2 separate regions of the Homo sapiens genome follow, and region 2 is linked to region 1. Evidence: fine-mapped expression QTL. A gene starts in region 1. The other region holds a variant in brackets. All regions are shown on one strand. Distances are from middle to middle. Region 1 holds the start of DDHD1 (DDHD domain containing 1). Region 2 overlaps DDHD1 (DDHD domain containing 1).

The links. PIP is the estimated chance that this variant, and not a neighbour inherited with it, causes the effect. A credible set is the group of variants that fine-mapping cannot tell apart.
Region 2: its variant is the best candidate, but not a certain one, in a credible set for the expression of DDHD1 in whole blood (TOPMed, PIP 0.56).

What each region holds. Positions count from the first base shown.
Region 1 is chr14:53,152,266-53,155,236 of GRCh38, reverse strand. DDHD1 (DDHD domain containing 1) reads left to right here and starts at 1,914. Exons shown (of 13, transcript NM_001160148.2): 1 at 1,914-2,971. The coding sequence starts at 2,139. It overlaps DDHD1-DT (DDHD1 divergent transcript), which reads right to left and starts at 1,883. Exons shown (of 3, transcript NR_110062.1): 1 at 1,506-1,883. RefSeq lists a silencer at 1,739-2,068 and an enhancer at 2,889-2,971.
Region 2 is chr14:53,075,859-53,078,358 of GRCh38, reverse strand. All of the region lies in intron 4 of DDHD1 (DDHD domain containing 1), which reads left to right. Among named protein-coding and RNA genes, the nearest start is that of DDHD1, 76 kb to the left of the region's middle. The variant C/T (reference allele first, on the strand shown) is at 1,543.

The sequences.
Region 1 (2,971 bases):
GCGGGGATTACAGGCGTGAGCCACCGCGCCCGGCCTTAGTACTTCTTTTTTTTTTTTTTTTTTTTTTTTTTTTTTTTTTTAACAGAGGATAATGTTAACGGAAATTGTGTAGTCAAGAGTTAAAATCTGGCCAAAATAATCTGACCAGATAGTTATATAGTTAGGCTACATTCTATCAAGAAACATAAAGGAATAGAGATATTTTAAATGTTGTGATATTCCTTATTTATAATCCCCTTCATAGTACTTTTCATACTGTACTATAATATAATGTATCTGTTTACTTGTCTGTATCCCCCTCTAGGCTGTAAGTTCCTTGAAGAAAGAAAGAACTCTCTCCCATTCTCTCTTATAGTAGAAGTTAGCATAGAGGTGCCTGGCATATAGGTGGCCAGACACCTATTCAAACCCTGTAGAATGAATGCTTTTACAGCTAGTAAACAGACCAAAGCCCATACCCAATATCATATGCTGCATATTGTCAATAGAAATACTGGAGGAGCAACTGGGAAGCAGGCACTCAGAAATTTTTTTTGAGTGGTAAAGAGGGTCCTGATCTTAGATGCTTTCAGTCAGAGCTGCAGTATACAGTTGGATAGGTTGTTCACTGCACAAGGTTAACCAGCTAAGGGCACTAATTGGGGCAGAAAATCCAGCCTGTATTCTACTTGACAAGCCATCAACTCCAACACCGCTCTGTATCTGCCCACAGGAAGCAATGCCTTTTTTCAAATTCCTACAAAGGCCCTGTACAAACTTCAGATAGTCTTGATTTAAATAATGACAGAGTAATAATGTCTGACAGGTTACATCTCAGGAGCAAGAAAAATTGCCCTACCAATCTGATTCCACCAGAGAGTAAAAGAAATAGTGAAGACTGTCTATTCTTAAAATGAAAACACTGAGGTTGGAGATGGTTTTTCTCTGGATTCTCAACATAGGGTGATGTGCTTACAAAATAATTTTTTTTAAATAAAAAAGACCCACATAAGGGAGCCTCTGTATTCAACTTGATCCCAGAATATGAGTTACAGAATCAGAGATGCATAAAAATCTGGAAGAAACCTTAAAGTTCATAGAATTCCATTGCTAGAAGGAACTTTAGATATCATCTGGTCCAAGAATCTTAATTTTACAGATGAGGAAACCAAAAAGATCAGGAAGATTATGTGATTTGCCTGTGGATGGTTAGCAAAGCTAAATCTAGAACCTGGTTGTTTTCTACCTCTCAATCGAACACTCTTTACCACAGCTGGTTGGACTTGACATCATTATAATCAACTAAGACTGATTGCGCACCCACTGTGTGGGAGAGGCTGACATGGACTTGGTTTCCATCAAGGGCCTAGCAATGAGGTTGAGAAAACAGGAAATCCAAGCATCAAAAGATAAGTAATAATATGAGATGGCATATGAAGCAAGGTTTAGATTCCAGTTTCCCAGTGGGAGTGGTGACACCAAGGTGAGTGATGGGTGTGGGGTGGAGTGCCCTCGTATCCACCCACCTATGCGTCCTGGTTCTGTCTGGAGGCACCAGGGCCAGGTGACAAAACGTCCAGGCGAGGCCGCAGTAGGGCCTAAGGTCAAAAAGAGCAATGCTGAATCCTACATCCTGGGGCCCTCCTAACACGTAGCTTAAGGCTCTGGGCTCATGACCCACATTGTAAGGATGAGTGGGGTAAAGCCTATCCACATCTGGGCTGTGAATTCCAGAAGCGGGGGACCGAGGCAGCTGTGCATGAAGACCGCAAGGAAGGAGGAAGGGAGCCGAGGAGGCCCAAGAGCGGCGGGCGACCTGACACCACCCTGCCCTCCCAGCCAGAGGGGCAGGGGGGAACCCCGCGCGCGGCGCCGGTGCAGCCCGGGCTTCCGGGGCGGCGCACGCGGCCGGGGGGCGGGGCGGGGGCCGAAGCACCGCCTACGTCGGGCTGCGTGACAATGGGGCCGGCGGCAGAACGCAGCTGCGGCGGCTGCGGGTCTCGTGGGGGCGGAGCGGTCGCCGCTGCCGCCGCAGCTCGGGTCGGGATTTGAAAGATTAGAAACTTCGGGTGGAGAGGGCGGCGGCGTTGAATGTGTGGCGGAAGCGCTGGGGGTCACGGCTCCGCGCGCCGCCGGACAGCCGGCGGCGTCTCCACAGCATGAATTACCCGGGCCGCGGGTCCCCACGGAGCCCCGAGCATAACGGCCGAGGCGGCGGCGGCGGCGCCTGGGAGCTGGGCTCAGACGCGAGGCCAGCGTTCGGCGGCGGCGTCTGCTGCTTCGAGCACCTGCCCGGCGGGGACCCGGACGACGGCGACGTGCCCCTGGCCCTGCTGCGCGGGGAACCCGGGCTGCATTTGGCGCCGGGCACCGACGACCACAACCACCACCTCGCGCTGGACCCCTGCCTCAGTGACGAGAACTATGACTTCAGCTCCGCCGAGTCGGGCTCCTCGCTGCGCTACTACAGCGAGGGTGAGAGCGGCGGCGGCGGCAGCTCCTTGTCGCTGCACCCGCCGCAGCAGCCTCCGCTGGTCCCGACGAACTCGGGGGGCGGCGGCGCGACAGGAGGGTCCCCCGGGGAAAGGAAACGTACCCGGCTTGGCGGCCCGGCGGCCCGGCACCGCTATGAGGTAGTGACGGAGCTGGGCCCGGAGGAGGTACGCTGGTTCTACAAGGAGGACAAGAAGACCTGGAAGCCCTTCATCGGCTACGACTCGCTCCGCATCGAGCTCGCCTTCCGGACCCTGCTGCAGACCACGGGTGCCCGGCCCCAGGGCGGGGACCGGGACGGCGACCATGTGTGCTCCCCCACGGGCCCAGCCTCCAGTTCCGGAGAAGATGACGATGAGGACCGCGCCTGCGGCTTCTGCCAGAGTACGACGGGGCACGAGCCGGAGATGGTGGAGCTTGTGAACATCGAGCCTGTGTGCGTGCGGGGCGGCCTCTACGAGGTGGATGTGACCCAAGGAGAGTGCTACCCGGTGTACTG
Region 2 (2,500 bases), 77 kb after region 1:
GACCTTGAACGCTACCACTTTAAAGGTACCACTTTATACCCACTAGGATAACTCTTATCAAAAAGATGGAAATTAACAAGTATTAGCTAGGATGAAGAAAAATCACAACCCTTACATGTTTCTTGTGAGATCAGAAAATAGTACAGCTGCTTTGGAAAGAGTTTGGCAGTTCTTCCAAAAGTTAAAGTTAGTGTATGAGCCAGTAATATTGCTTATGTGTATACCCAAGAGATCTGAAAATGTATGTCCACAAAAACTTGTTAAAAGAATGTTCATAGAAGCATTATTCATGATAGCCCAAAAATGGAAGCAACACAAACATCCATCAACTGATGAGCGGCTAAACAAAAGTGGCGTATCCATATAATGAAATACTATTCAACAATGAAAAGCAATGAAGTACTGATTTATGATGCAACATGGATGAGACTTGAAAACATTACACCAACTGAAAAGCCAGACACAAAAGGCCCCATATTGTATGATTATATGAAATGTTCAAAATAGACAAATCTGAAAGTAGATTAGTGGGTGCTGGCAGGTGGGAAGAAGAGGGATAGAGAGTGACTGCTAATGGGTATGGTGTTTCTTTCTGGGGTGATGAACGTGTTATGAAATTAGATAATGGTGATAGCTGCATAACTCTTTGAATATACTAAAAGCCACAATTGTTTTTTAAAAAAAAAAAACAAAAACAAAAACTAATGAAGTTGTGTCAAAAGCAACTTGGAGAGATTCACAGACCTAAAATAGACAATTTGAACCTTGGCAAGGATAATAACTACAGTGGATTGATATGCATCAAATATGCTTAAATCTGTGAGTTAGCAATGACATCAAAATATATAAAACCTAATGACTTGTTATTTTGAAAACTGTTAATAAAGGGAAGAATTAACCATTTATCCTACCTTTTCTAGATTAACTGTGCCTCAGTTCATGCAGAAACTATTTGGTTATACCCCAGTGCAGCTAAATATTTAATGTAAGGAAATTTCTCTTTCTAGAAGTATAAGCCTATAAACAAATGAAGAGTGATGGAATTTAAAAGGCCCTTTTGCCACCATGATAAACTAATGGATTTAAACAATGATCATCAGTAACTGCTATCATCACTAAAAAGAGAAGAAGTTGTGTGTACCTATGTACATATGGAGTAGTAGTCTCGCCAAAACAGAGCTTGCATCTGATGAAGCCCCTATAACTAACTACCAAATTATAGGAAACGGGACAAAGAACATGTTAAACAACACCATAGGGATGCAGTGAATGAAAATCGGACTCTGAGTAACTCTATAGGACACATACACAAAAAATTACAGGTATACCTCAAAGATATTGTGGGTTTGGTTCCATACCACTGCAATAAAGTGAATATCATAATTAAGCAAGTTGCACAAATTGGCTTCTCAGTGCATATAAAAGTTATGTTTACACGACACTGTAAACAAGTATGTGATAGCATAATGTCTTTAAAAATCGTGTACATATCTTAATTTTAAAATGCTGTACTGCTAAATGTCGCTAACCAATTATCTGAGG[C/T]TTCTGTGAGTTCACAGCATCTTTTTGCTGTTGAAGGGTCTTGCGTCCATGTTGATGGCTGCTGACCAGGATGGTAGTTGCCGAAGTTTGGGGTGGGTGTGGCAATTTCTTAAAATAAGACAACAGTGAAGTTAGCCACATCGATTGATTCTTCCTCTCACGAAAGATTTCTCTGTAACATGCAATGCAGTTTGAGAGCGTTTTACCCACTGTAGAACTTACTTGAAAATTTGAATCAATCCTGTCAAACCCTGCCACTGCCTTATCAACTAAGTTTATGGCATATTCTGAATTCTTTGTTGCCATTTCAACAATATTCACATCTTCACCAAGAGTCCATCTCAAACCACTTTCTTTGTTCATCCATAAGAAGCAACTCCTCATCCACTGAAGTTTTCTCATGAAATTGCAGCAATTCAGTCACATCTTCACACTCTGCTTATTTTAGTTCTCTTGCTATTTCCAATACATCTGCAGTTACTTCCTCATTGAAGTCTTGAGCCCCTCAAAGTCATTTATGAGGGTTGGAATCCATTTCTTCCAAACTTCTGGAATGTTGATATTTTCACCCCCCATGAATCACTGAATCACAAATGTTCTTAATGGCATCTAGAATGATGAGTTCCTTCCGGAATACTTTCAGTTTACTTTGCCCAGATTCATCCACTATCTATAGCAGCTATAGCATTATAAAATTTGTTTCTTAAATATAAGGCTTGAAAGTTAAAATTACTCCTTGATCCGTGGGCTGCAGAGTGGATATTGTGTTAGCAGGCATGAAAACAACATTCATCTCCTAGTACATCTCCATCAGAGCTCTTGAGTGACCAGGTACATTGTCAGCGGGCAGTAACCATTTGAAAGGAATCGTTTTTTTTTCTGAGCAGTAGGTCTCAACAGTGGGCTTAAAATATTCTGTAAGCCATGCTGTAAAAAAGATGTGCTGCTATCCAGGCTT